Linked DNA regions of Homo sapiens. The protein of the gene in region 4 interacts with the protein of the main gene of each other region in a biochemical or structural test. Each region holds a gene or a part of one and is shown on either strand. Other genes may lie near its edges.

Region 1 (4,053 bases), on a different chromosome or scaffold from region 4:
GCACCTGTCTCTGTGACCCGGCCATGGGGCAGACATCTGCCTGCGTGGCTGTCCTGCCCCCCTCACCCAGGTGGGCCCTGCTCCCGGGGCCGGGCAGTCTCAAGCACTGACCTGTAGAGGTTCTCAGCGCCCGTCCGCATCTGCAGCTCCTTGTCAATCTGCTGGTGAATCTGGGCCCTGCGGCTCTGCAGCTGGCCGCACTGGATCTGCGTCAGGGAGTCACAGCCCTGCAGGGAGGCCACAGGCGATCACAGCCCGACCCCGTGGCGCCCGCACCAGGCTGCGCCTCGCCAGCCACTGAGAGGAGTGCATCCTGCCCATGGGTAACGGGATGGTCACCATGCGCTGGGGCTGGAGCTGGCCTCACAGGGAGGGGCTGGACAGAACTAGTGTGAACACAGGCCTGGCCAGAGCAGGACAGGAGGCAGTCAATGCAGAAGGACGTGGTCGGTGGGGTAAGCTGCTGACTCGTGATGGGGGTCAGCGGGGGAGGCTGGCACCTGCCAAGGACACCAGAAGCCAGGGTCTCACCAGGCAGCCTGGACAAGTAGGGGCTCCGGGAGCCCTGCAGGAGGCGGCCCACTGCTCCTCACAGCCTTCCTTCTGCGCTTCTGGATTTCATTCTGGATCCCCCCCTTGCCCCTCCCAATTTTTTTCCCATCCAACTCACCCACGCCTCCAAATCATTCCCATGTGGGTTTAGGCGTGGGCTCAAAGGACAGGGTCCCTGAGGCTCTGGGGGCGGCCACTGGCCCCCGATGGTTGGTGCAGAGGCTGCGGTCTGACTTTGGGAATGGTTCTCGAAGCGAACGCACACCCGTGCCCTCCCTATCCACAGAGAAATGACTCTGAGCCTTGCACCCAGACTGCAGCCCCGCGGCCCTGCCCAGCACCAGCCATGGCGAAAGAGTGGGGCGTGCCCAGCGGGGCCCCTTCTGGACTTTGATGGCTCCTGTGTCGTCAGTGGTGCCAGCGTGCTGGAGCTTACATTTCACTCTAGGGAGATCCAGTTTCATGCCTCAGCCCACCCCACCCTTGTGGTGTTGGGGTCCTGCCCACATGATCCTCACGTGTCCCTCCCTCTCACCATGGCCTCCCAACCCCCACTCTTCCCCGTGGCCATGTGGGAATGCCTGGGTCTCCACCCGGACAAGATTATTTGCAGCTACCTGTGGCTGTCCCCTGGGTGGGCTCCCAGGCGTGGGCTGGCTGGCTTGCCTCTCCAGCACCCACTCCTTCCATGCTTTGAGACCCACAGTGCTGCTCAGGGCTCACTGCTCAGGGACACTGACTCCCACCCAGCCCTGGGGCGAGCCTGGTCTGAGTCAGGCGTGGCCAACCTGGCCATTTCTGCCAGTCAGCAGCAAGACAAGGCCTCTGGTGGCTCCTGGGACTGCTTCCCGCCCTTGTCGGGAGACAGGACCTCTTCTTCCCCAGGACCTTGTGGCGTCTGAAGGTGAATCTTGCCACCATGAAACTGACCTACCACTGCATGAAGCTGCGGATTCATGGGGCCAACGTGCACACGCACTGGGTCTTCCCCTCTGTGGACCCGACACCCTCTCCACGCACACACGTCTCTCAGGCCTTCCCGTCTTCCCCGTAAAGAGCTCACACGTGTTTTCCTGGGTTTTCTCCTAGATATCTGGAGAGAGTTCTTTTTGCTAATGTGAACGAGATCTTTGTGTGCATTTTAATTAGTTTATTCCCATTATACAAGAAAGGTTTGATTTCCTAGACAGAAGGCCTGCTCGTCCAGCCCCCCAAAATCACAGCAGCCAGCTGAGCGGGTGACCATCTATTATGGGTGAATTGTGTCCCCACAAAAGACAGGTTCAAGTCCTGACTCCCAGTACCTGTGACTGCAATTTTTCTAGAAATAGGGTCTTTGCAGATATAATGAGTTAAGATGAGGCCACCCTGGAGTAGGGGGTCCTTAATCGCAGTGACAAGGGTCCTTATACGAGGTGGGGAATTTGAACACAGTCACATGGAGGTGGCCATGGGAAGGCAGAGACAGAGACTGGAGGATGAGGCACCGTCCCCTGGAACCCACGCCATCCCCCAAATCCCCGCCCCGTCCCCTGGAACCCGCGCCATCCCCAAACCCCCACACCGTCCCCTGGAACCCACACCATCCCCCAAATCCCCGCCCCGTCCCCTGGAACCCGCGCCATCCCCAAACCCCCACACCGTCCCCTGGAACCCACGCCATCCCCCAAATCCCCGCCCCGTCCCCTGGAACCCACACCATCCCCCAAGCCCCCGCCCCGTCCCCTGGAACCCGCGCCATCCCCAAACCCCCACACCGTCCCCTGGAACCCGCGCCATCCCCAAACCCCCACACCGTCCCCTGGAACCCACGCCATCCCCAAACCCCCACACCGTCCCCTGGAACCCACACCATCCCCCAAGCCCCCGCCCCGTCCCCTGGAACCCGCGCCATCCCCAAACCCCCACACCGTCCCCTGGAACCCACGCCATCCCCAAACCCCCACACCATCCCCTGGAACCCGCGCCATCCCCAAACCCCCACACCGTCCCCTGGAACCCACACCATCCCCCAAGCCCCCGCACCATCCCCTGGAACCCACGCCATCCCCCAAGCCCCTGCACCATCCCCTGGAACCCACGCCATCCCCAAACCCCCACACCGTCCCCTGGAACCCACACCATCCCCCAAGCCCCCGCACCGTCCCCTGGAACCCACGCCATCCCCAAACCCCCGCACCGTCCCCTGGAACCCACGCCATCCCCAAACCCCCACACCATCCCCTGGAACCCGCGCCATCCCCAAACCCCCACACCGTCCCCTGGAACCCGCGCCATCCCCAAACCCCCACACCGTCCCCTGGAACCCACACCATCCCCCAAGCCCCTGCACCATCCCCTGGAACCCACGCCATCCCCCAAACCCCCGCATTGTCCCCCAGACACCTGTGCCATCCCCCAAACCCCTGCGCCATCTGCTGGACACCCACGCCATCCCCCAGACACCTGTACCATCCCCCAAACCCCTGTACTGTCTGCTGGACACCCGCACCATCCCCTGGACACCCAGGCCGGCAGCCTCCTGCTGAGTGCTGGGGTGAGGGAGCCTGACGGAGGTCCCTGAACTGAAGATGAGTTGGCGCTTAGGGGCCGGAGGGAGGGACACAGGCGGCCGGAGGGATGGACACAGGCAGCTGGAGGGAGGGACACAGGCAGCCGGAAGGAGGGTGTGCCGGCCCAGGACCCTGGCCTCCCCCAGCCCAGCCCTGCCCCCGTGGACACCACCCAGCAGCGGACGGGCCGATGTGCACTTGGGAACCCTCACCCTGCTCCCGTTTCTCACTCCCGCCTCCTCCAGAAAAGAAATTCCCTCCAGAGCTGCTTCAGGGACTCGGGCTGGAGAGGCCCACAGGTGGGAGAGGGGCATGGGCGCCTCAGATCTGAGAAGCTCCCTGAACCTGAGGCCCGCCCACCCCCGCCTCCCATCCCTACCTTTCCCACCGGCGCTACCACCTCGAGGGCCTCTGCCCAGTACCTAGGAGACCCCCGTGCCACCCACCGCAGCTACACCCCCTCCCCGCAAAGGCCCCGCTGCAAGGCTCCAGCAGCTTTAAGGGCTCTGGCTGTGCGACGGGCATCAGACACCCAGCCAGGTCCCTGCTCCCCTCCTGGCCCCAGGAGAGCTGCGGGGAGCCTGGCCCCTTGGAGCCCCACAGGCACCTGCTGTGGGCCTGGTCCATTCCTCGGCCTCCCTACCCGCAGTGCTCCCTGCAGGCCAAGTGACTTCCCGGCCTACAGGCGGAGGAGCAGACCCGAGCCGGACCTTTGAGGCTGGGTAGACCTTGGAGGTGGGCGGCCCATGCCCCACTTTCCACACTGGGTTGAAGGTTGAGCCCAGTGGAAGGGGCATAGACACAGGCGTTCAGGCCCCTACTCCTGCTACAACCTCCCCACCCTCTGGAGACAAAGGTGACCTGGAGCTCCCCACCCCCACGTCCACGGTGCCCTGACACCCCACTGTGGCCATTTCCGCCTTGCATTAGGAAAGGACAGAGAGGCTGT
Region 2 (4,053 bases), on a different chromosome or scaffold from region 4:
CCAGAGAAGTGGGGATTACAGGCACCCACCACCACGCCCACCTAATTTTTGCATTTTTAGTAGAGATGGGGTTTCATCATGTTGGCCAGGCTGGTCTCCAACTCCTGACCTCAAGTCATCCGCCCACCTCGGCCTCCCATAGTGCTGGGATTACAGGTGTGAGCCACTGCACCCGGCTCCACCCCATGGTTTCTGAGCTGGTGGGACTGGGTTGGGCCTGAGAGTCTGCATTTCTAAGGGGTGCCCAGGTGATGCACTGCTTTGAGAACCACTGGTCTCCTAGTTTAAAGCCAAAATTCTGAAGCCTGGCTCTTCCAATGATGACACAACTTTGTGTATATCAATGAACCTTTTGTGCCTCAGTTTCCTTGTCTATAAAATGGAGAAACAAGAGTCCTCCCTCATGAGGTAGTTCTGAGGATTAAACGAACGAATTGGTGTTAGGCATTTAGGTCAATGCTGGGTACAATGCTGGTTAAGTGCAATTAAGAGATAGCTCGGCCAGATGCGGTGGCTCACACCTGTAATCCCAGCACTTTGGGAGGCCAAGGTGGGCAGATCACCTGAGGTCAGGAGTTTGAGACCAGCCTGGCCAACCTGTCTCTACTGAAAATACAAAAATTAGCCGGGCGTGGTGGCAGGCACCTATAATCCCACCTACTTCGGAGACTGAGGCAGGAGAATCACTTGAACCCAGGAGGCAGAGGTTGCAGTGAGCCGAGATCATGCCACTGCACTCTCCAGCCAGGGTGACACAGTGAGACTCTGTCTCAAAAAAAAAAAAAAGTTAGCTGGCCAGGTGCAGTGGCTCATGCCTATAATCCCAGCACTTTGGGAGGCTGCAGTGGGCAGATCACCTGAGGTCAGAAGTTCAAGACCAGCCTGGCCAACACGGTGAAACCCCGTCTCTACTAAAAATAAAAAAATCAGCCAGGCATGGTGGTGCACGCCTGTGATCCCAGCTACTAGGGAGGCTGAGGCAGGAAAACTGCTTGAACCTGGGAGGCGGAGGTTGCAGTGAGCCCAGATTACGCCACTGCACTCCAGCCTGGGCAACAGAACAAGACTCAAGACTCCGTCTCAAAAAAAAAAAAAAAAAAAGTAGCTATTCCTGGCCAGGCGTGGTGGCTCATGCCTGTAATCCCAGCACTGTGAGAGATTCAGGTGGACGGATCACCTCAAGTCAGGAGTTCAAGTCCAGCCTGGCCAACATGTTGAAACCTGTCTCCACTAAAAACATAAAATTAGCTGGGCGTGGTGGCGGGTGCCTGTAGACCCAGCTACTCAGGAGGCTGAGGCAGGAGAATCACTTGAACCCGGGAGGTGGAGGTTGCAGTGAGCCGAGATCACGCCACTTCCCTCCAGCCTGGATGACAGAGCAACACTTTCGGGGGAAAAAAAAAAATTAAGAAAACAAAGGTTATTCATATCACAACAGTGCTTTTCTTCCCACATCAAGCATGCCTACCTTCGTTCGCTCTGCTTTTCATCAGGAGGACCCCGATGGGCCCCGGCCGCCCCCTAGGCTCGGGGCTGGGGCTCCGTGAGTGCGGGTGCTCGCGGCTGCGGCTTCGGGGTCCCCGAGAGCGGGCATCGTGGCGGGCCCCGCGCCTGTACTCCGGGCTGTAGGCCCGCTCGTAGTCTGGGTCGTAGGCCCGGTGATAGGCTCGCTCGTAGTCCTGGTCAATGCTCCGGCCGCGGCTGCGGTCACGGTCCCGGTCCCGGGATGGCCCAAAGTCGTGGTCCAGGCCCCGCTCCAGGCTCCGGCCACGGCTGCGGTCTCGGGTGCGCGCATGGTCTTGGTCCAGGCCCCGCTCCAGGCTCCGGCCACGGCTCCGGTCCCGGCTGAGGTCCCGCTCCCGGCTCCGGGCCCGCTCATGGGGACGCCCCCTTTCCGGGCTGTCCTCCCAGCTGCGGCTGCGCCCCCCATGGCTGTTCAGCCGGCTCCTCTCGCTGTAGCCACTCCGGAAACTTCTGCCATCAAACTCGTCCATCACCTCAAAAGCCCGGTCATCCTGATCCAGGGGAGGGCTGGCCTGAAGTGCGGCCACCTGGACCTTCCGGGGCCTCTTGACCACCTGTTGTCAAAACAAACTCAGTGTGGACGCAGGACAATCACAACTGAATGTGGAGAAGGCAGTGGTTAAGAGCCCTGGTTCTGGTTTCAGGAAAACCGTATCCCTGCCGACTCACTAAGGTTCAGGTTCCTCATCCGGAAACGGACAATAAAAATCTCACAGGGTTAGAATAGGACAATGACCGTGAAGCTCTGAGTACAGGGCCTTGAATTAAGGTAATAATAAAATAGTATCTCCAAAATCTGCTTCTACTCAAGTTTGAAAAGTCTCAGAGGCCCAAATCACTAAGTTATAAAACTCAAAAAACAAAAATCCAGAAAGTGTGACATTCTATACATAGCTGCCAAGGGGGCAAAGGCGGATAAAGAGAAGTTGATTGATGGGTACAAATATATGGTCTGATAGAAGAAATAAGACCTAATGTTAGATCGGTAGGGTGACTACAGCTTACAGGAATCTACTGTACATTCCAAAATAGCTGGAAGAAAATAATCTGAACGTTTCTACCATAAAGAAAAGACAATTATTTAAGGTGATGGATATTCCAAATACACTGATTTGAATTTTACAAATCATGTCTACAGCCATACCATCCTGAACGTGCCCAATCTCATCTGAATTTTACAAATCATATTAATGTATTAAATTAATCACACATACCCTATAACTATGCATTATGCATAAATTTTTAAAATTTTAAGGAAGAAAAGTCAATGCCTTATTTATTTATTTATTTAATTTATTATTAAGACAAAGTCTCGCTCTGTTGCCCAGGCTGGACTGTACTCAGCTCACTGCAACCTCCGCCTCCCAGGTTCAAGCGATTCTCGTGCCTCACCCTCCCGATAGCTGGGATTACAGGCGCACACCACCATGCCTGGCTAATTTTTGTATTTTTAGTAGAGACGGGGTTTCACCATGTTGGCCAGGCTGGTCTCGAACTCCTGACCTCAGGTGATCTGCCTGCCTCCATCTCCCAAAGTGCTGGCGTGAACCACTGAACCTGGCCCAATGCCATTTTTAAAGTGGGGGGTGGGGTAGAGGGGCAAGGGGAAAGAGGAACCCTTCTAGATTAAAAGGAACTAAAGAGATAATGATTAAATGCAATGAGTGAACTTTGGATCCTGGATAGGGAAGAAAACATATATCAAAGACATTTTGAGAGCTGCGTATGGTGGCTCACACCTGTAATCCCAGCACCTTGGGAGGCTGAGGTGGAAGGATCGCTTGAACCCAGGAGATCAAGATCAGCCTGGGAAACACAACAAGATCCCATCTCTAAAAATGAAAAAGACATCTTGAGATATGGACTGGATTTTAGATAATACTGTAAAATTATTACTTTTCTTAGATCGGATAATAGTATTATATAGATGAATGTCCTCATTCATAGGAAATGCATGTGAAGTAAGTAGAAATGAACTGTCATGTCTGTAACTTTCCTTCGCATGGTTGCCCAGAAAGACATGAGTGTTTATATACATACAGAGACCAAGTAAAGATGGCAGAATAGTAATATTTTAGAAGATAAATGTTTATTACACTGATCTTTCAACTTTCCTTTTTCTTTGAAAATCTTCATAATATAAAGTTGAAAAACATTAAATACCATATATGTGGCCGGGTGAGGTGGCTCACGCCTGTAATCCCAGCACTTTGGGAGGCCAAGGCTGGCGGATCACCTGAAGTTGGGAGTTCGGGACCAGCCTGACCAACATGGTGAAACCCCGTCTCTACTAAAAATACAAAATTAGACAGGTGTGGTGGTGCATGCCTGTAATCCCAGCTACTCGGGAGGCTGAGGCAGGAGAATCGCTTGAACCCAGGAGGCGGAGATTGTGGTCAGCCAAGATCGTGCCATTGCACTCCAGCCTGGGCAACAAGAGCAAAACTCTGTCTCAAAAAAAAAAAAAAAATACACACACACACACACAACCATATATGTGGGTATATGCCTACTAGCATTGCCCCTAAG
Region 3 (4,588 bases), on a different chromosome or scaffold from region 4:
ATTGTTTTAAGCAAGCAAGTAACATATAGGAAGAGTCTTGTGAGGGCTTTTTGAAGGATGAGTTTAAAGACAATGAGACTGGCATAAGTGAACCCGTTGAAGGCTTTCTCAGTCAAGTAGGTGAGGGAAGATGAAACTTGAGGTGGTGCCAATGGGACGGAAAGAGGAGGCAGATTGGAGAAATAGTGAGGTTATAGAGGCAATAAGACTTGTTCATTTATTGGATGTGAGGAAAGGACAAGGAAGGAGTCCAGGATGATTTCCAGGTTTCTGGTTGAGGCAACTGGATGGGTGGTAAGGAACTGGGACAGGGAATAGAGGAGCAGGCTGGTGACAGGCCGTAGAGCACATTGGTTATGTGCATCCTCCCGGCCTCCCAGAAGGAATCCATCACTTTTTCCACTTTTATAGGTGTTTCCGCACTGTCTTTCTGTCCGGATCTGGCAGACCTGGGTTTGAGTCCTGGCTCTGGACTTATAAGCTGTGTGATGTTGAGCATATTATGTAATTTGAGCCTATTTCCTCAACTGTAAAATGGAAATACAACTTACTTCTTGTTTGTGTATGTCTGAATTGAATGCACAGTGTGTGGTATGCAGTGGGCACTCCATAGTGTTGGCTATTTTTATTACTCAGAAAGGGGTCAGGGAAGAGGCCCAGGACAAATGGGTGAAGGCTTTAAGCAAGGCTTCTAGGTCAAAAGAGGAAAAACACAACATGTGGCAGACCAGCTGAAGCCAGAGGGAGGCCAGAGCTGAGCTACCACCACATGTTGCTGAGCAGATGAGTCACTGCAGGCAGCAGGTCAGGCTACCCAGGCCACAGCAGACTGGGCTGGGCTCTACACGATGACTTCATTGTATGCCTTTTTTGTCCTCTCCTCCTCCCAGAAGGAATCCATCACTTTTTCCACTTTTATAGGCGTTTCCACACTGTCTTACTGTCCGGAAAGAGCAAACACGGTGGAAAGGGACAGAAGAGCCAGAATTCCGTCTAGTTTGATCACTGATTTGCTGGGTGACCTGGTGCATTTCACTTCGCCTCAGTCTCTTTATCTGTAATATGAGAATGCGCAGATTTGCCTCCTAAGTGTGATGTGAGAATTAGGTGAGAGTTGGCAGGCACTAAATAAAAAAGCATGCATTAGCCTTCTATTCATTAGTTGTGTTATTCTGTCTCCTTCCTGCTCCCGGCCCCTCTCTCCCTAGTTCTTTGAGGACACCGATCGACTCGAACTCATTTTTGGGTCCCCAGCACTGAGCTTGGCCCAGCAGTTTCATGAATGGATGAATGAAAGATTCAATGGGAGTCCGCAGCCGCTGACGGCGCGCCGAGAGCCCCGCTCGCTTCTGGTCCTCCGACTGCGCGCCAGGGCCACGGGCGGGTCCTTTGCGACCGTTCGCTGGCGCGTGCGCGGGAGGCGGCGCGCGGCCGGAGGTGGCGGGCGGGCTCCCGGTGCGCGCGCGTGAGGGGCGGGGCCGGCCGAAGGCTGGCTGTAGGCAGGCGGCTGAGCCGGCGGCGGGTGGCCTGCCCAACGTGTGCTGGGTGGGAGAAGGCGAGGCGTCAGCGATGCTGTCTCTTCCGTGAGGAGCGCAGAGGAGGTCGCGGCGCCGGAGGCCCCAGAAGGCTCGAAGGCGCCGCGGGCTGGGGTCGGTGGCTTAGGGAGCCCGTCCGGCCATGGTGGCCGCGGGTGGTGGTTGGCGCGGCTGCGCTGCGGCCCGGGGCAGTGCGGAGCCGGGACAGTCGCGGCGCTGACGCCCGCGGGCCCCAGCTGCAGATATGAAGCGGAGCCGCTGCCGCGACCGACCGCAGCCGCCGCCGCCCGACCGCCGGGAGGATGGAGTTCAGCGGGCAGCGGAGCTGTCTCAGTCTTTGCCGCCGCGCCGGCGAGCGCCGCCCGGGAGGCAGCGGCTGGAGGAGCGGACGGGCCCCGCGGGGCCCGAGGGCAAGGAGCAGGTAGGGCGGGTTGGGATCCGGGAGGGTGAACCTGAATGGAAGCCGTGGGGGAGGGGATCTTCGGCGGGAGGACCCGGGCTGGAGCTTTGGAGGGGTGGGGTCTGAGTAGTTCGCGGGGAGGAGTGGGAGGTCTGGGGAGGCCGAGAAATGGGGAGTGGAGAAATGGAAGTGGTGGCCTGGGGTTGTATTGGAAATGGGGGTGTAGAAGAATGAAAAATTGGTGCAAGAGATAGTCAGGGGTTCTGGATGGGGCGAAAGGACGCTGGAATGTGGGCTGAGTGTGTGAGCTGCAACGAGTAGGCTTACTAAAGAGGCGTTGAGGAGTTATCCATAGGAGTAAATAGAGTAAGATGTAAGTCAATTTGATGTAGTGTTATCCTGTTTTCTAGAGGTTGTCCTTAAAATTGTAAAAACGGATGACACTCCCAAGCATTCTCTGATTTGGCCATCATTATACTTTTGTACCAGTGTGTTCACAATCATTGTTAAGGCTCTCTTTACCAACCATCTATTTCACAAGAAAGCACTTGTGAAACACCTGCATGTGAGCAGTGTTAAGCCCAATTTTGTGAACAGAATTCGTAGATATATGGTTTGCCTGCTAGTTTTCCACTGAAAACACATTACTGGGAAAACACAGCAGCATACAAATATTCATGGAGTTTCTGAATGAACAGGATATGTTTATGTAATTTATTAGTCAAGAGTAGGTGTATTTATGAGTAGGGGATAAAGGTCAGTTTTATCAGGCAGGAGAAGCTGCCACTAGTAGCGGTAATAAGTTTAGTGAAAGGAGAATAAGTAATCCTTGGTCTTGTTGGATTTACAGAAAAATGTTCTGTAGTAATGAACTCTAGTGACAGCTTTCCTTTTGTTCAGCTCTATTCGGGATCCTACTGACTTCATCCATGAATGTTTTAAGACTTCTTATAGGTCTCTTACCTCTTTTCTCTCAGATAAATTAGCATTTTCCTTAGACATTTTTTTTTTTTTTTGAGACGAAGTCTCGCTCTGTCGCCCAGGGGAGAGTGCAGTGGCATTATTTCGGCTCACTGCAACCTCCACCTCCTGGGTTCAGCGATTCTCCTGCCTCAGCCTCCCGGCTAGCTGGGATTACAGGTGCCTACCACCATGTCCAGCTAATTTTTTTGTATTTTTAGCAGAGACAGGGTTTCACCATGTTGGCCAGGCTGGTCTGGAACTCTGACCTCAGGTAATCGGGATTACAGGCATGAGCCAGTGTGCCCGGCCCTTTAGACAGTTTAAAAATTATATACCATGCTAGGTAGCCCTTGGACTTTTCCCCCCTTTTGTTCTTCCACCTCTTATTCCCCACTGAGCCCTGAGGAGACTGCACCATTGACCATCTCTGCCCCGCTTCTAGCTGCTGAGCATTGTCCTCTTGCTGCAATTTACTCCCCCATGTGCCTAATACTTATCTTTTACATTCTCTGCAGTATCATCTAGTCAAAACTTGTACAATGAACTTCAAGTCCAGGTCCTTTCCTGTCTCAGTTTACCTGTCCAGTTGACCTTACTGCGTATTTCATGGTAGAGTTCAAGATTACTTGATTTTTCCCTCCTCTTTATTTTATGATTTTTGTGTTTTCTCATCCTTAGCTTCAGTCTCAGAGAAAAGTACTCATCCTCCTCTCCGAGGCTAATTTCTCTACTTATGTCCTTGATTTCATCCTCTTTTGTTTGCCTTAGACCCTTGTTACTCTCTTTGTTTTATATCACAAATAAAAACAAAACAACATAATTTCCCTGAATTGTGTAACCTACCCAAACTACTTTGTTATCTCTTCTTTGCTTCCCCAACAACCTTCTTGAAAAATGAGTTTGTATTCAGTGTCTTAGCTTCCTCACCTTGTATACATTTCTAATATGGTTTGGCTTCTTCACTTATGCTTTCCCAAAACTGATGTCTTTAAGGTCACCGAAAGCTTTTTTTGTGTGGGATTACTTTTTTATTGAGGTTTGACAAATCAAAGGTTCATTCAGTCCATGAAATATTACAGAATGAGTACCTGTATGATCACAACTCACATCAGGATGGAGAACATTCCCAGTACCCTAGAATGCTCCCTGTGCTTTCTCCTAGCACTACTCTTTTACAGATGTAACCTCCCTCACCACCTCTGTCACTATAGATTTGTTTTGAACTAATACTTCATATAAATGGAATCATAGTGTGTACTGTTTTGTGACCAGATTCTTTCATTCGGATCATGTCTTGAGACTCATCCATGTTGTTGCTTGTAGAAACAGTTCTTTTTCATTGCTGTGTAATTTTCCATTGTATGAATGTATTGTGATGGTTACTAAAACTTATTTTTGTTTTTGAGACAGGATCTCACTCTGTCACCCACGCTGGAGTGTAGTGGTGCCGTCATAGCTCACGGCAGCCTTGAACTCCCAGGCTCAAGTGATCCTCCTGCCTCAGCCTCCCAAGTAGCTGGGACCATAGGCACATACCACCATGCCCAGCTAATTTTTTAATTTCTTTTTCTTTTTCTTTTTGAGACAGAGTCTTGCTCTCTCGCCCAGGCTGGAGTGCAGCGGCACATTCTCAGCTCACTGCAACCTCTGCCTCCCGGATTCAAGCGATTCTCTTGCCTCAGCCTCCCGA
Region 4 (4,053 bases):
TAGTAATACTGTATAGTATACTGGTAATTTGCCAACAGAATAGATTTCAGGTGTTCTGAGCACAAAAAAGAAAAGTGGTAACTCTATGAGGCAAGGGTTATGTTAATTAGGTTGACCGTAGTAATCATTTTGCTATGAATATGTATAACAAAACATGTTTTACACCTTAAATATATAATTTTTATTTTTTAAAAATAGTGGGGGCTGGATGCGGTGGCTCACACCCGTAATCCCAACACATTGGGAGGCTGAGGTGGGTGGATCATCTGAGGTCAGGAGTTCGAGACCAGCTTGGCCAACATGACGAAACCCCATCTCTACTAAAAACACAAAAATTAGCCGGGCATGGTGGCGCCTGCCTGTAATCCCAGTTACTAGGGTCTGAGGCAGGAGGATCGCTTGAACCTGGGAGGCACAGGTTCCAGTGAGCCAATATCATGCCACTGCACTCCAACCTGGGCCACAGAGTGAGACTCTGTCTCAAAAAAAAAAAAAAAAAAAGAAAAAGAAAAAAAAAAGAAAAAGAAAAAAGTGAGTTAGAATTATCTCTACAATCATCAAAAAGCGTAGACAACAGAAAGCAATAAAAAAAGCCAATAGATCATGTCAAAAGGCTTTGCATCCATCATTTCGTTCCTTGGCTTAGCCTTAAACAGGAAGGAAAAATGAGACCAAAAGTATCAATTAATGAGGTTAAAACAACTGGTGATTGAAGTAGAATATGTATCAGATCTATCTTAGAGCTATGACTGATGTATAATGTAAAATGGTACTTCAGTTCAGATCTAAATTCTTAACTTCACTTTGAGTAATTTTTGTTTCAATAATCAAATTAAATTATTTAAATATTTAGCCCACAATAATCAAAGGTATATAACTTGCATCAATTGTTTTTGTACATTTTCTGGTAATTTTCTGAGTATAAGAGTGTGAAAAATATTCATGAAAAATCATATTGTAGTTTTAACTGGAAAGTACTATTTTAGTGACTATGAAGAGTGGTAAACAAAAGGGGAAATAAAATTTAAACTGTTATTTCATTATTTTAATATAGGTTACTTGAATTTCCACTAGAGGAGCAGAAATGCCACCAATGCCAAGTGCCCCACCTGTGCATCCACCTCCAGATGGAGGATGGGGTTGGATTGTGGTTGGAGCAGCTTTTATCTCCATTGGATTTTCCTATGCATTCCCCAAAGCTGTCACCGTATTCTTCAAAGAAATTCAGCAAATATTCCACACTACCTACAGTGAAATAGCATGGATTTCATCCATTATGCTGGCTGTTATGTACGCAGGAGGTAAGCTTCTTGCAATAAATAGAATCCTGAATTAAGAAAATAATTCCTCCATGTCACAATGTTTTACATGGAGTGTCTTGGTATATTAAAACCCTGTTTTTATGTTATAGTCACTTAAAACCAATCAAAAGTATAATTAGAACTGAAATTTCAATGATTTTAGTGATTCAGCATCTTAAGCTATTTGCTTCGAATTGAGTCTTAATGGAGGATTTGTTTGAATAAGAATTTGTAAGCACAAAGCAAGATTTACTAAATTATGGAATTTCTAAGTGAGGCTACTTCATTTAGTTTGAAATAAAGTCCACAACATATTGCTGATGTCATTTTTCACAATCGCTACCTCTGGTAGAAATGCTTTCTTCTGAATGAGAAGAAAATTTAAGTTGCTGACAGTTTATAAGCCCAGAAAGTACATCACTTTAAGCTGCAAAAATGAAGGGTTAACATGTACATTCTAGACCCATTCAAATTTGTGTGACTGAAATAATTATTTATCTCTATAAGGCTCATTAAATAGGACATCTTTTTAACTTAAATTGTTGCTTGGAAATTATCTTATTACATTCTATGTTCAAATGAGGGTATTAGTCATGAAGGATAATGAAGAAATCAAAGTACCATCCCACTTCTAAATGTTGCAAATTTGGAATTATTGGTGCCTTATTATGTCATCTATTTTCTGTAAATCAATCTCAATAGCAGACCAGACTCTCTTGTAGAATTTTTTGAAAGTCATTACTTAAAATATGTCTTTTAGCGTTTTTATTTTTCAAGTGGATATTTGACTTTAAGGGATAGATATAGACTCAGACTATAGTCATTTAAAGAAATTATATCAATTATCTTCTGTGATTTCTTATTTTTCAAGTAAGGATAATATGGCTCTTAGTCATGAAAATATAACATTAGTATAATATCCAGTATTTAGTAATATTTACTTTCACCCAAGGCCTAAGTACTTAATATGTGTGATATGACTTAATCCTCTTAATGATCCGTGAAATAAGTATTATCTTCTCTTTATTCCATAGCTAAGGAAATATATACAATAGCTCTCCCAAGTCAAACAACTTGTTAGTAGTAAACAGAGACTGTAACTCCTAGCATTTAACACCTGTGGTCTCTGACTTTCTCATAACTTTCTCTTTACATCTAGAGAGTGACAAAGCCAGATCTGGCCCAGGCCTTCTATAAACCTGATTCAATTCTTTCTACTTCAGCTCAGTGGCTTGTGTACCACCTCCACCAATGTCATTTGTTCAGTGACATAATAATTATTCTTTAGGACATTATCTTTTTGTTGTACTACGAAGGTAAACAGTTGATCCTGAAATAATTCCCTGTGTGTGTGTGTGTGTGTGTGTTTATGTGTGTTGGTGTTGGAATGTGTTTTATACTTTTTATATATAGTGACTTTATATTAATACAGCATATGTTTCCCTTATTCATTTGGTTAGGTTAAACATGCATTTTTCTTCCAGTATCAAAAGGTATCCTTTAAATACTATTTGGGCGTGTCAATGGAAAATTCTACTTCTAACACACATTCTATGAATCTCCTTTGGACAGTTGCTTTATAGATTGTAAGAATGTTATTTCTTGTGACCATAGAAACAGTAGGTATTGTAGAGTAGATATTCCTGTATCCTGTGGGACAGGTGTTGTTTAATAATGTTTTGCTAGAGCAGCACACAGTCATCTTGATTTCAGCTCCAAAACGTGCTAATATTAAGATATGTAGAGGGTTTTCTTGCCTCTTAAATACAATTGAAACAGTCTCTTCTAGTGAATTAATATAAGTCCATTGAATTTGAACTTCAGGTCTTACATAGTCATAATTCCTTATTGAGCAGATAGTTGACTAACTCATCAGTAGGACAAAATTTTATATACTGTTTTAATTAAGCCAAATCTTAATTTACATTCTCTGTTAGTTTTCAGACCTCAGAGTCTTGATGACTTAAAACAATACAGGTTATTTCTTTCTGAAGCAATGTTTCAAAAAGTGGCTATTCCATCACCCAAGGCTTTGTATGTTGTTCCCTAAATCTGCTCCATCTGTTGGACAAATAGTAAAGGCAGACAGCATGGAAGATCATATGGACTATTTTAGGGGGTATGCCTGGGAGGAATAAACATTATTTCTGTACATATTCTATTGATCAGAACTCTTATACTGCCCTACCCAGAGTTAGGGGCCATGGATGCTGGGAAATACAGCCTTCCCAAAGGAAGAAACAGAACTACATAACATCTAGCCAGTCCTAGTCAGAGCCTGGTATCTCAATATTCTCCATTGAACAAAAGAAGCATGTGTTTATAGACTTGCCTATGACAGCCCTCCACCCTCTGGCTGGATCTAAAAGGAACATTAGAATGAACAATGGCATAATTAACTTTCTCAAACCACTAAATCTCAATATGAAATTATAAAAAGTAAATATACTATATTTACTACAAATAAATGTTTTTATTTTATTCATACTTATTTTTCTATTTTAATATATATGGTATAATTTTTTAAAAGCACAAAAGAACTCTTCTGAAATTCATGAAGAAAATGGTAGTTTGTTAAAATAGTTATAAATTTGGAAAAAGCTGCCTTAAAATTTTTAGGGTGATAGATGAATAAAATATGTCTAAGTTAAATATTAACAGGGATTTTATATATGCTTGTTTTGTGAAAGCAGTGCTAGATACATACAAATTCTTGGTATTTAGTAATTGATGAAGGCAATATCTAGGTGAG
Region 5 (4,053 bases), on a different chromosome or scaffold from region 4:
GATGTCATCACTGCAAAGCGAGGGCCATTTTTCTCTGCAGAGCTCCCAAGGCTCTTCAGTGGATGCAGGCTGTGGCACAGGCAGCAGTGGCAGTGCCTGTGCCACACCCGTGGAGTCGCCGCTCTGCCCCTCCCTGGGGAAGCACTTGATTCCTGACGCTTCTGGGAAAGGCGTGAATTACATTCCTTCAGAGGAGAGAGCCCCTGGGCTTCCCAACCACGGAGCCACCTTTAAGGAACTGCACCCACAGACAGAAGGGATGTGTCCACGGATGACAGTGCCTGCTCTGCACACAGCCATTAACACCGAACCCCTGTTTGGCACATTGAGAGATGGATGCCATCGGCTCCCCAAGATTAAGGAAACCACAGGTACAGCAATGATGGATTTAGCACTTTGTATGACATGCCAAGAGCATGTAAACCATATTTACAACAAACTTAAAAACGTAATGTCTGGAAGAAAAGTAAAAGGTAGAATTTTAAAAGGCCACAGAACTGTAAAGTACCAATCATTGATCCCCTGGTATTTAATAAATACTAAAGATTATAAAGGTGAAAATGGCATTTGCTCTTTATAATCTTACTCTGTGCTTGCTTTCAGAATTGGATGGGGCAATATGTTTTTCCTAAATTCTAAATGCAGATGTTTAGCAATGCCCAGTGTGACTTTTAGTTATATGATAGTATTGCTTAGAGTCACATAACAGTTTGATTTTCTTCCCAAGACATCTGAGTTCTAATTCTGCCATTTCATTATTGAGGGACAAGGAAGGATAAGAGAGCAGGGTATCAGGGAGATTGGAGGGGTTTGGAGAGATCATTTGCCTTTCGGCAATCTTACTGATTCCTCCCTACTCTGTAAGACTGCTCTATATGGATGTTCTGAAGTGTCTTGCATACCCCAGTGTCAGGAAGATTTTGAGGCTATTCCTGATGAGCTGCTTTATTTTCCCCAAAATAATAAAGTGTAAACACACGTAGAAAAAAGAACACATCCACCTTCTGTATCCCACCTTCACCACTCCACCACTCAATGGCAGGCATTCCCCTCACCGATCCACTTGGCTGGCCATCACATGGCAAAAGCAGATACTCTTTCATACTTTTATGTTTCAAATTATGTCATCAATAGTGTCTTTTCCATACAGGTCAATGGAAGTTAGTGACATCTTATATTGGTCATTTTCTATTCCTGTTCTTTTAAGATTTTCTACTTTCTCAAAACCCACCACTGGCTTTACCTCCTTTGGAAAAGCTGTCTGTGAATATCACCTAACTCATCACCCAACTGCATCTTTACCTCTAAACTAAGTCACACTGTTTAATCCTTCATGATTTATAAAGAACTTTCACCTGAGTTACCTCTTGCTTCTCACAAAAATTCTGTGAGATGGGGATTATTTGCTTCACATGACAGCTTTTCTTAAAGAAAAAAAAAAATGTTGAACAACTGGCCCAGTGTTTCAACTTCAGACTTTTACCAGGCAAACCTCATGCTGACTTCTTAAAAAGATTCACTTATTTAATTTGCACTAATTAAATTAGGCCACTTCTTTAAAAGAAAGAAAGGAAAGAAAGGAAAGGAAAGGAAAGGAAAGGAAAGGAAAGGAAAGGAAAGGAAAGGAAAGGAAAGAAAGAAAGAAAGAAAGAAAGAAAGAAAGAGAAAGAAAGAAAGGAGGAAGAAAGAAAGAAAAGAAAAGAAAAGTAACAATGCCAGATTTAACCTAATTCCCTTGAAATGAAACTTAATATCTCCAATATATTTGAATAATCTATACACAGTTGTTTTCTGTGTCTAAGCTTTGATGGGTAGATATTGGGAGTAAGGCAATTCATGAAATCCCTGAAAATGTTTGGGATTTCTAGACAATTCCAAATGAATCAGCAGTTCCAGAAATAACAGATTCCAGTATTTTCTTGATATTCATTAAAATGGAAATTTGTTATGAGATATCAAGAGGCAGTCTTTGGAAAGCAGGGTGACCTTAGCATCGGCAGCCCTTCCAGACTACAACCTTGAGAAATGACAGACATCATGTAGAGATGTAGTAAAAATGACCTCCCAGGAGATGCTTAATGATTCTCTCTGTTTTTCTACTACCCCTAGTGTAGCTTTGACAGAGCCTGGGAAGGAGAGACGAGGAGGCATGCCTTCAGCTTGGTCTCAACATCCTGAAGCTGATCCCATCCTGCTACCATCAAACATTCACTCGGAATCAAAGGTGCCAATTCCAAATCAAGACCCTAATGATTTCTCCCAAGCAAATCAGGCATACGGAGAGGCTGTGAGCTGGCGGCCACCGGATCTGAGAGGGGGGAGCCTCAGGACACCTCCCAGCCAGAAGGCTCTGAGACATAGCAGCAGTATCCTCTCCGGATCTGTCGATTTGGAGACCTTCCGAGAGAGAACCAAGGGTGCAGTCAGCTTAAAGTGTCCAGGCATCACAGAAGCACAGGAGGCCAGTTCTGAAAGGCGAGCAGAACTCCCCCTGGGGAGGAAGCTCACCAAAAGTTTTTCCCAAAGCTCAATGCACTTGAGCTCTGAGGGGAGGTTTCACAAAAGGTCCCCAGTGGCTCATAAAGACTCAAAGCTGTATAGGACATTACCCTTGCGGAAGCTGGAGGGCAGCAATTGGAGATGCCGGGGACCCTTCAGCTATTGCTTCCTGAACCGAGGGCAGGATGAAGATGGTGAGGAAGAAGAGGAGAGGGGAGAGGCCACCGTCCAGGTCTCTTGCCTCTATAGACCACAGATGACTCAAGCCATGCCAGAACCAAGCAGCCCATGCCTGGCTGTGGCGATTCAGAAGCAACGAGGGGAGCTATCCAGAGGGTCAGTGCTGAAGGTCTGGGCAGAAGACCTGCGAGACCCAGATGACTTGGACTTCAGCAACCTGGCTTTTGATGCCCGGATTGCAAGAATAAATGCCCTAAAGGAGAGCACATATGCAATGCCTGATGGGTTCCTTGCAGCCCAAAATGATGCCAATGAGCTGCTCTGTCTCGTCAGGGCAACCAAGGAGAAGAGGGAGGAGTCACGCCCTGAAGCGTACGACCTTACACTTTCTCAGTACAAGCAACTGTTATCCATTGAGTCCAGACAGTTGGGAAGTGCCTGTAGGAAAATGGCGATGGCTGAGAAAAGCCCGGAGGAGATGCTCCTAGCTATGACTTCCAGCTTTCAAGTGCTCTGTTGCCTAACAGAAGCTTGCATGCGATTAGTTAAAGTCGTGAACTCAGAAACACAGCGGCAGGAAATTGTAGGGAAGATCGATGAAGTGGTCATAAATTACATTTGTCTACTGAAAGCTGCCGAAGCAGCCACTGGAAAGAACCCTGGGGACCCTAATGTTGGACTCTCGGCGCGACACTCAACCACCATGGCCGCTCTCGTAAGCACACTGACACGTTCTCTCAAGAGGCTTTTAAACAAATAAATATGGAAGTCACGTCATAATCTACCTTTGCAAAGCCATACATGAACTTTTATTTACTTTGTGTGTATGATGAACAGATGTCTCCTTTCTTCTCTCTGTATATTTTGTTATTTTATATAAAATAGGAGATAAAAGTCACATTGATGAAATGTTGAAATGTACTAATCAGATGTATTCTGTTTATATTATACATATATATACACGTAAAAGAAATATCCAAGAAAGTGATGACATTTGGCTATTTTTCATATAGTTAAAACTCCAGGTATATGATGTGAAATTTTAAATTCTACCATGTTAGAGCAAAACAATGAATCCTATCCCCTTTCTTTCCAAGTAGCTACTTGGAAACCATATCATTCATATTTAGAAGTAAAACACAAAACAAAAAAGAGAGAGAAAAGAAAAGAAATCACAATGTATATAAAACAGTACTTATGTTTTAAAATTATGATTTTTAAGCATTGGAAATAGCAAAAAGACATTTAAAATTCAAGAAGCTATTATGAATTACTAGAGAATATATCTGTAATAAATTAATTTTTTGCTCATAGTATTTGGTTACTGGATGCTTTCTTCCAAGAATCCCACATATTTAATTTGGGTTTTTGCTA
Region 6 (4,763 bases), on a different chromosome or scaffold from region 4:
ACATGGAGAAATGCCATCTCTACACAATATACAAAAATTAGCTGGTGTGGTGGCATGTGCCTGTGGTCCCAGCTACTTGCGGGGCTGAGGCAGGAGGATGGCTTGAGACCAGGAGGCGGAGGCTGCAGTGAGCCGAGATTGTGCCACTGCACTCCAGCCTGGGTGACACAGTGAGACCCTGTCTCAAAAAAACAAAAGCCCCCAACACGCCACTGTTTGCTGACACACCATGTCACCCTCTTCCCCAGGGGCTTCAGGTGGCATCTTGCCATACCAAATGCTGTCCTAACTTTTTTCTTTCTTTTTTTTTGAGAAGGAGTCTTGCTCTGTCACCTAGGCTGGAATCCAAGGGCACCATGTCAACTCACTGTAACCTCCACTTCCCAGATTCAAGTGATTCTCCTGCCTCAGCCTCCCAAGTAGCTGGGACTACAGGCGCCCACAACCACGCCCAGTTAATTTTTGTATTTTTATTAGAGACGGGGTTTCACCATGTTGGCCAGGCTGGTCTCGAACTCCTGGCCTTAAGAGATCTGCCCGCCTCGGCCTCCCAAAGTGCTGGGATTACAGGCATGAGCCACCACACCCAACCAGCGTTTTTCTAATGCATTAAGTAAAATGAACTTAACTTCTCCTTGAAAAGTATTTTTCTAAGGATTTCATGACCCTCTCCAAAGTCACATAACTCTGCATTGTGGTAAAACTGGGGTCTGAAATCAATGCCCTAGGGGATAAAATCCAAACCCTAATCTCTGCCTTCCTTAGAGGTCAAGACTAGCTCCTAGAACTTCAGCCCCATGAGGCCCCACATTCTCCACCAGACACGGAAAGGGTGAGACCTAATTAATGGCAATTGATCCATCAATCAATTTTCAGAGATTAAGGCGAGCGTTGATTCACATGCTTCCCAACGCAGACTTCCAGTCTGTACTAAGTTCTGTGCTTTACGAAAGACTTTCAGAAACAGATCTTAACTTCTTCATTCAGAGATAGATTAGATAGATACATAGATACAATTAAAAAGAAAAAAATTACTTTGTTGAGATCCCCTCTGTCCTTATCCTCATGGCCACATCTGACAGTCCCTTCCTAGCATCTCCCAAAGCACTATCCCAGGAAAGGACTAGGTTTGCCCAGTAACTCTGACATGACCACAACTGGGGGGAAAGAATGCAGGTTTGAGGGACAGAGATGCAAGTCAGAAGCTCAAAGTGGAGACGGGAGGGCCACCAATGAAATGACCTGCTGTGTGGCCAGCAATTTAGTCTCTCTGTCAGTTTCCTGCAGCTACAAAAATTGAGGTTAAGATGGCCAACGTAAGAGAGCTGTTACCAGGAATGCCTTATAAAATCATTCCCTTAATAAGTGGGGCTTTTAACAGCCAAATAAATGGGTCCCATCAGCCTTTGACCTTCAGGTTGCTAAGGGCAGTTTCTCAGCCCTCTCGGTTCACTTGTTTTTCTTTTATACATATATCCTTATTTATTTTTACTGTACCTATCGATTCACTGTTAAAACAGGGACAAGACCTAGAAAGATGGCACTTTGTTTCCTGGCTCTGAACAAGTTAAATCAAACAATAGGTTATAATTCAAAATTCCTGGTGCCCAATACTTTCTGAGCATTTTAACCACTCCAAGCCAGAGTTTTCTCTCTGGCAAAGAATAACAGAAAGCTCACATAGTGGCAACGACAACTGAACGTGATAAAGCAGAGCGCCTGCCACAACAGTAGATGCCCAATAAATGCTAGTTCTCCTCCTCCCTCAGTGCCATGTCTTCTTCCTCCAGCTGCCTTGTCTAAAAAGGCTGGCTTCCACACTCCACGGCCAGGCCAGGACAAGCCTACCACTTGTCAGAAACTCCCGCCAGTATCCGTTCCTGCACCCAGACACACACTTACAAATCAGTCATCCCCAAGACCAAAGACACAGGGGTTCCAAAAGGCACCCTCAAGGGAACCAGTCACCAGCCTTCCTCGTTAAGCAGCTCTGTGCTCTCAGGGAGAGAACTTAGCCCCAGCAGCCACTACTAGGATTTTCCCATGGTGCAATGCAACTTCCCCAACTTTTCCGGGCCCAGTTTCCAAAGAAACCCAGGCAGGCGTTGTGCACAATCAGCCACCAGTCTGGGAGAGACTGGGCTCTGAGCAGAGAAAAAGGAGCTGGGACAGCCAGAAAATGAAAAAGCAGTTGTGGCCCCGGCACAGGATGGCAGCGACCAAAACTTAAGAGTAGGGGTCCTGGCCCAAGTCCCATTCTTCTGGACGGTACCCTTGGTTAAAGGCTAGCACAGGGTGCCAAAGCTAGCGGACGGTGAGGAGCCTCAGAAAAGGGACTGATGGACATCCTCCGAGGTACCCCCTACCCGCTACTGGACCTGGTGGCCCCCGGGGACCCTGTCGTCGAGGCACCTGAGAGTGAAGGCCTTCAGCGGGGGGCATTGTTCACAGCGAACGGCGGGACTGGGGGAGGCGGCGGGACTTCGGGATCCGCGCACCGCCGCCTCCCCAACTGGGCCAGAGGAGCGAGTCCACCGAGGCCATCGCCAGGTGGAGCGGCGGCCCCGGCGAGGTACCCTCGGCCAGCAGGAGGGAGAAGCGGAGGGCGCGTCCCAGAGGCGGGGGCCAAGGGTCTGCCACTCACCCGCGCCTTCGGCGGGCTGCGGCGGCCCGACGACGCCGTTCAGGTAGAGAATGGGCAGCAGGTGAGGCTGCGTCTTCTCCAGCGCCGCCCGCAGGTCCTGGAAGTGGTCCCGCTCCTTGGCCAAGAGCAGCTTGAGCAGCAGCTCCGCCTTGGCGCCTCCCGCCTCCTCGTCCAGCTGCCGCCGCTCGCCGGGACTGAGCGCTCCCGCGGCCTCGAGCAGCCCGAGCACGGCTTCCACCTCCGTCATGGCCTGGGCCAGGCTCTGCTGACACTGGGCGAGCAGCTCCCGGCGCTGGGGCTCCATGGTGGCGGGCCGCGCCGCCCCGCCCCGCCGGACGCCTCCCGGGCCCCCCGAGGCCGGCGGGCGGGCAGGCGAGCACCTCGGCAGCAGCCCTAGGGCGCCGGGAGCCGTGAGGCGGCGGGAGCCATGGGCCGGGGCCTGGGCGGGCTGGGGGCCCGGGGCGGCGGGCGGCGCTCAGCAGCGGCCGCCTCCCGGGCTCCGGAGCGCAGCCATGTTGGCTGCCGCGGCGGCGGGACTGGAAGAGGAGGAGGAGGAGACGGAGGAGGAGAAGGAGGAGGCGGAGGTGGGGACGGCGGCCGGGGCGCGCCCCGAGGCCGGGCTCCAGCCGGGCATGCTCCCCCTCCCCCTCAGCCTCCGCGCGCGCCGCCCGCCCCGCGAGAAAACTCGCCCCGAAAGCCGGGCCGCGCGCCGCCCCCAGAGCAAGACTACAACTCCCGGGAGAAAGTCGCCTGGGCCGTGTTTCCCAGGCTCCCGACAGCTCCGGCCCGGCTCGGAGGCCGCCTCGGCCCCCGTGCACCCCGGCCCGGCTCACCGGGGCCCCGCGGCCGCCACCCGCTCCCCCGTGGCCACAGCCCCGCCGCCGCCGGCCCGTCCCTCCTCTCTCCCCTCCCCAGGCCGTCCCTCCGGGAGGCGGCAGCAGGGGAGGAGGGGACGGGCGGAGGGGAGGGGTCCCCGGCCCGCCCGCTAGGCGGGGACGCGGCGCCGGCTGGTTCCCGGTCCCCCGAGGCCCAGGCGCAGCCGGGGGTGGGGGACACGGAGTCAGGCCTGGCACGCGGCCAGCCCACAAGCTGCTGGAGACCCCCTCATACAAATCTTGCCCCCAGTCCAGAGGGTCCTAATCTGAGAACTCCAAAATACAGCCTGGAGACAAATGGTGGGGAGGGTTTCCCCTAAATTTGGACATCTCCAGATTAAGACCTCCGCCGAATCCGTGAGGCTTTCCCTCTCCAAGGAGCTCCTAAGAGAATTTCCCAGTAAAATCGCCTCAACTGCGGTAAATAGGCTGTTCCCCGCGCCAGCATTTGAGAAGAGCTGGTCCCCAGAGTGTAAAGGAGTTAGGATGTTGGCAGGAGGAAGGATGTGTCGCCGGATGAGGAAAAGAAAGGTGGGTGTCTGCGGTGCAGTCCTTGGTCTTTCTGGCAAGTGAGGCGCTCTCCCCCTAAATGTCTCAGAGGGAGACAAATCAGCGGACTACCTTGCTTCCTTTGATGACTTGGAAAGGATCTGCAGTCCCCCTTAAAGCCCAAGAATGTCTTCTCTTCCACGACAGCCGTTTGTGGACACATACTGCTTACCTCCCTGACTGCAGGACAAGGTCCTTCAAAGCTGGAACTCTGACTGCGCTCAGTGATCCCGCAGTGCTCCTCTGTAGAGTGGGAACCCAGGTCCATTTCAAATATCTACGTTGGAATGAGTGGATCTCGCTGGGGGTGAGAGGCACTTTGTCTACCCACACTGCCAGTCCCAGCCACATGCCTCCTCCCTTCCCTCAAAAAGCAGTGTCTTCTTAGTCTGCTTCTTCAAGGGGAGAAGTCGTTTTTATTTATGGAAACGAACTCACTATATGGTAGAAAGAACAAGAGTATCAGAATTTGCACTTTGGACTTGGACTCCCCTCTAAGCAGCTGCACAAGGTGGAACAAACCAATAATCCTTGCTGATCTGTTTTGTCCTTAGGAAAAATGGTGGAGGGAGAATATTAGATCAGGGGTTCTTAGCCTTGGCTTCATGAATAAGCTCAAGGATGTCAATGAAGCTTTTGACATGATCTCAACTTTTTTGTGAACATTTATATATTTTTCTGGAATGGGGTCCATA
Region 7 (4,053 bases), on a different chromosome or scaffold from region 4:
GGTAATAGGAATGGCTTGTTCTGCTTCTAAACATTCCGCCAATCCACAGGAAGCCCGGACGGCCCTGCTCACAGCAGGAATGGGGCACAGAGGGGCAATGCTGGCTGTAGAACACCCCCCTGCAGGGGGCTGGGCCAGGGCTAGGGAGGTGAGTCCCGGGTCAGGCCGTACTGCATGCTCACAGTGTGGTCCAACTCCTCCAGCTCTGCAGGCAGCGGGATGCCCAGCTCCCCCAGGTACAGGGAGAGGGCCTCAAAGGAGTCCTCCAATTTCGAGAATGCTGGTCTAGAAGGAAAAGAGGTAAATTAGAGGCAGGTGGAACATGAGCAGGGCCATGGGGTGGGTGGAAGGGATCTAGGCTCAGCTACTTCCTGGTTGTATAACGTCAGGCAAACTCCTTCACCTAGTAGTGCCTCTGTGAGAAATGGGCATAATGTTACCGGTACCTCATATATTTGCTATAAAGATTAGGTAACACTATAACAAGGCTGGACTAGCTGGAGTTAATACTTAAAAACAATAGGAGAAAAACTTCCCTCCCATATCTTAGAGAAAATGCAGTTATCAAAGGTGGAATCGGAAACACCAGGCTCCTAGTGCCACGGAAATGGCTTGGCTGCCCCGGAAGCCTAAGACAGCTCAGGCTTACTCCTCCTCCTCCATGTTTATGCTTAAATGTCATGTCACCTCAGTGAGGCCTGCTCTGACGACCATATTTAAAATTGCAACTGGTACCCTGAACAATCGTCTTTACTTGTCTTGACTCTTTTTCCATAGCATCTGCCACATTCTAATATTCAATATAGTTTACTTATTGTATCTACTGTATGATACAGTAGATACCATGCTAGAATCTATGTTCTATGAGGGTAAGCACCTTTATTTTGTTCGCTGCTGTAACCCAAGTGTTTAGAACTGTACCTAGCACACAGTAGGCATTCAATACTGTATATATATATTTTTTAATAAATTAAAGATATTTAGAATGACAAGAGGTATTAGAAAACAAATACTGTGTAGCTTCACAATTTCTCCTCAAGCTTTTACACTGGTGTTACTGAAGGACTGCGGTCCTTGGCCTATAAAGGAACAAGGTATAGATTCTCCCACCAGAAAATTTCAACTCTAATGTGGACCGCTGGAAATCATTTTTTTTTTTTTTTTTGAGCTGCACCAAAGGCGTACCCTACCTCGCTTTATTAAAGGGCCCGTGCCGCAGAGTCAATATAAAAACACAAAGTCCCATCAGTTTAATAACAATAAAAAAATCCAAAAGTGGAAAACTGAGGGGGCAGGGGAAGAGACCCCTGGGCCAGGGGCACGAGGAGCCCTGCTCATGGAACCAGGCCTGGCCGCAGGGTCCCCCGGTATTGCTGTTGCTACGAGGTCGGGGGGTAGCGATTGTCCTATGGGAGCCACCGTTCGCCTGGGTCGGGGACCCTCACTTCTTCTGGGGTGTGCTCAGCTTCTGCATGGCCCGGATCTTGTCCAGCAGGCCAGAGATGAAGGCCTCTGTGGGTTTGTAACAGTCAACCAGCAGCTCCTTGACCCTGGAAGCCCAGGCATCGTCACTCTCCATGTCCAGGAGCTCATCCACGTCAATCTCTAGTTCTGAGATCTCCTCTTCCTGGCAGTCGTAGAGGCGCGTGAGCTGCTCCAGGATCCACTCCTCTAGGTTGAGGTGCTTCCGTAGCTCCTTGGGGTCATACTTGATGGTGACCTTCCCTTGGCGCCTCACTGGGCCCTCATCATCCGCGCAGCCCGGGCCCTCTCCTGCGGCCCCGGGGGGGGCTCTGAAAGTAGATGCGTGGTCCTTGGCCGCCACTGCCTGGCCTGGGGGCCGGGGCCGGGGCCGCCAACGCCGCGCCCCCCGCGGTGCCGCTGTCCGCCACGGCGGCCTCCGGGGCCACGTGCGCGCGTGGGGCCCCTCCTTGTGCCGCCGCCTCCGTGACGCCCGCCGGCTGGCTCAGGTTAGCTCGCCGGCTCCGCGGCGAGGGCGGCGGCGGGGGCGCCCGGGGGCAGCTGCAGCATGCGGAGCCCCCGGGCCTGGCCTGGTCGCGCCCCGCCCCCTCCCCGCCGATCCGCCCGCCCTTTGTCCCCTGCGGCCGCCGCCGGGGCTGCCGCCGCCGAAGCGCTTTCTCTATCCGGAAACCATTTTTAAATAAAGATTATGTCCCAACTGGTTATCCTGGGAGGGTGGAGTTGGGGGTGAGGAGAATGTTGAGGGATATATTGGTTAAGGGAGATTACAGAAGACGTATTTCCTGTGCTATAAACTTTGGTAATGTTTGAACTTGTTTTTAAAAGAAACATGATTTTTGATGGCAGGAAAAGAACCCCATTTTTGAGACAGAGTTTCACTCTTGTTGCCGAGGCTGGAGTGCAATGGCGTGATATCGGCTCACTGCAACCTCCGCCCCTGGGTTCAAGCAATTCTCCTGCCTCAGCCTCCCAAGTAGCTGGGGTTACAGGCACCTGCCACCATGCCTGGCTAAGTTTTGTATTTTTAGTAGAGATGGGGTTTCACCATGTTGGCCAGGCTGGTCTCGAACTCCAGACCTCAGGTGATCCACCAGCCTCAGCCTCCCAAAGTGCTGGGATTACAGGTGTGAGCCATCGCGCCCAGCCAGATTCTCGTTTTTTAACCACACACTTGAAAAGACCTAGGGTAACTTTGGTAATAATGAAATTATTACCTGAGAAGAATAAAGGTAATTTTGAAAATACTTCCTCAAAGGAGAAATTAGCTAAATGCATAAAACTGCTCACTGTAGTTAAATACCTATTGTAAAGAGAAACTGGAAAAACCTGAACATCTACATTACAATATGTTCAGACAGTCTCTCAATAGAATTTCATGTTGTCGACAAAAATGATAAACAGGAAGACTGGATAGTAAACACAAGGGAAATGCAGGGCAAAATACAGAACTATTTACTATAAAAAAAAGTATATGTGTAGATATGGACAGGGGAATATCGAAAGATGAATACACTTACTGTATTCAAATGGTTTGGGTGAATTTCCTTCTTTTAAACTTTCTTTTAATGGCTGTGTTTCTGTGTCCTATCCAGATTACTTGCTGCTATGTCTTTACCTCTCTCTTCTCCAACCTGTACATATGTGTTGTCAGATGGCTCAGGGGTTGACAGCCACATTCTTGACCTCAAGGCTTCTCTCACCCCTGTGCTTGCAGAGGGCTCAGGGGTGGCCTTAGACAGAGGCAAACGTCCCAGGACCCTGTGAGCTGGGAGAAAAAGGCAGGATACCAACCTGCTCTCAGGCTCCAGTCTGCAGCAGATGGCGGCCAGCGGGAAGAAGGCCGGGGGACAATCTGTGGGAACAAACTTCTCCCAGAAAAGCTTCACGTTGAGGCCAAAGTCCAGTGTTCGGGGAAGGCAGTCAGGATCTGCATACACCTGCCCAATGATCTGTAGGGTAAGAAGACAGCTGTTTACAAAGGACTACAGAGGCCACAGATACTTGGCAAGGGAAAGGGATGCTGGGATGTGGACAGGAAGAATGGCAGAAGAGGAGGTGGTAAAATAGGTTAGAGAGCTCTCCCCAATCCCCAATCATCTCTCCAAATCTTACTAATCCAGACCTGTATCCACTGAGAGCTGGGTTACTGAAGAGGACTAAGAAGGGGCTTCACTGCAGAAGCCAAGTGTTCCAAATCAGCATCTGCTCCTAGCTTCCACTCATCCTACCCTGCCTTGTCTGTGTCTCCTTGTGGCTGTGTGTGTGTGCCAGAGTTAAGGCTCTATGAGGTGCTGGATCTGATTCATGTCTGAAACCCTCTGGCACCAGCCCAGTGCTCTGAACAGAGGTGTTCAATTAATATTAAAGAAAACAATTTTTTAAAACAAATCTTCCTTCATGGCCAGGCACGGTAGCTCATGCCTGTAATCTCAGCACTTTGGGAGGCTGAAGCGGGTGGATCACCTGAGGTCAGGCATTTGAGACCAGCCTGGCCAATATGGCGAAACCCTGTCTCTACTGAAAATACAAAAATTAGCCAGGCGTGGTGGCGCACACCTGTAGTCCCAGCTA

Evidence for each region.
Region 1: the proteins of SLC16A7 (region 4) and RHPN1 interact in a test that uses a peptide from one of them, tested with the Homo sapiens proteins (one large-scale study listed by IntAct).
Region 2: the proteins of SLC16A7 (region 4) and TJP2 interact in a test that uses a peptide from one of them, tested with the Homo sapiens proteins (one large-scale study listed by IntAct).
Region 3: the proteins of SLC16A7 (region 4) and MAST2 interact in a test that uses a peptide from one of them, tested with the Homo sapiens proteins (one large-scale study listed by IntAct).
Region 5: the proteins of SLC16A7 (region 4) and FRMPD4 interact in a test that uses a peptide from one of them, tested with the Homo sapiens proteins (one large-scale study listed by IntAct).
Region 6: the proteins of SLC16A7 (region 4) and DLG5 interact in a test that uses a peptide from one of them, tested with the Homo sapiens proteins (one large-scale study listed by IntAct).
Region 7: the proteins of SLC16A7 (region 4) and LIMK2 interact in a test that uses a peptide from one of them, tested with the Homo sapiens proteins (one large-scale study listed by IntAct).

What each region holds. Positions count from the first base shown.
Region 1 is NC_000008.11:143,371,727-143,375,779, reverse strand, and holds part of RHPN1 (rhophilin-1), read right to left. Parts: intron 2,049-4,053; exon of another isoform or gene 1,646-2,048; coding exon of another isoform or gene 1,487-1,645; exon of another isoform or gene 1,483-1,486; intron 228-1,482; coding exon 112-227; intron 1-111. UniProt on the Homo sapiens protein: Has no enzymatic activity. May serve as a target for Rho, and interact with some cytoskeletal component upon Rho binding or relay a Rho signal to other molecules.
Region 2 is NC_000009.12:69,218,912-69,222,964, reverse strand, and holds part of TJP2 (tight junction protein 2), read right to left. Parts: intron 2,079-4,053; coding exon 1,469-2,078; intron 1-1,468. UniProt on the Homo sapiens protein: Plays a role in tight junctions and adherens junctions. Acts as a positive regulator of RANKL-induced osteoclast differentiation, potentially via mediating downstream transcriptional activity.
Region 3 is NC_000001.11:45,802,117-45,806,704, forward strand, and holds the start of MAST2 (microtubule-associated serine/threonine-protein kinase 2), read left to right. Parts: upstream 1-1,495; 5' UTR 1,496-1,779; coding exon 1,780-1,956; intron 1,957-4,588. UniProt on the Homo sapiens protein: Appears to link the dystrophin/utrophin network with microtubule filaments via the syntrophins. Phosphorylation of DMD or UTRN may modulate their affinities for associated proteins. Functions in a multi-protein complex in spermatid maturation.
Region 4 is NC_000012.12:59,703,718-59,707,770, forward strand, and holds part of SLC16A7 (monocarboxylate transporter 2), read left to right. Parts: intron 1-1,054; 5' UTR 1,055-1,084; coding exon 1,085-1,301; intron 1,302-4,053. UniProt on the Homo sapiens protein: Proton-coupled monocarboxylate symporter. Catalyzes the rapid transport across the plasma membrane of monocarboxylates such as L-lactate, pyruvate and ketone bodies, acetoacetate, beta-hydroxybutyrate and acetate.
Region 5 is NC_000023.11:12,718,420-12,722,472, forward strand, and holds part of FRMPD4 (FERM and PDZ domain-containing protein 4), read left to right. Parts: coding exon 1-371; intron 372-2,109; coding exon of another isoform or gene 2,110-2,114; coding exon 2,115-3,439; 3' UTR 3,440-4,053. UniProt on the Homo sapiens protein: Positive regulator of dendritic spine morphogenesis and density. Required for the maintenance of excitatory synaptic transmission. Binds phosphatidylinositol 4,5-bisphosphate.
Region 6 is NC_000010.11:77,923,573-77,928,335, forward strand, and holds the start of DLG5 (disks large homolog 5), read right to left. Parts: upstream 3,184-4,763; 5' UTR 2,949-3,183; coding exon 2,645-2,948; intron 1-2,644. UniProt on the Homo sapiens protein: Acts as a regulator of the Hippo signaling pathway.
Region 7 is NC_000022.11:31,274,529-31,278,581, reverse strand, and holds part of LIMK2 (LIM domain kinase 2), read right to left. Parts: intron 3,432-4,053; coding exon 3,274-3,431; intron 2,146-3,273; exon of another isoform or gene 1,794-2,145; coding exon of another isoform or gene 1,442-1,793; exon of another isoform or gene 944-1,441; intron 286-943; coding exon 141-285; 3' UTR 1-140. UniProt on the Homo sapiens protein: Serine/threonine-protein kinase that plays an essential role in the regulation of actin filament dynamics. Acts downstream of several Rho family GTPase signal transduction pathways.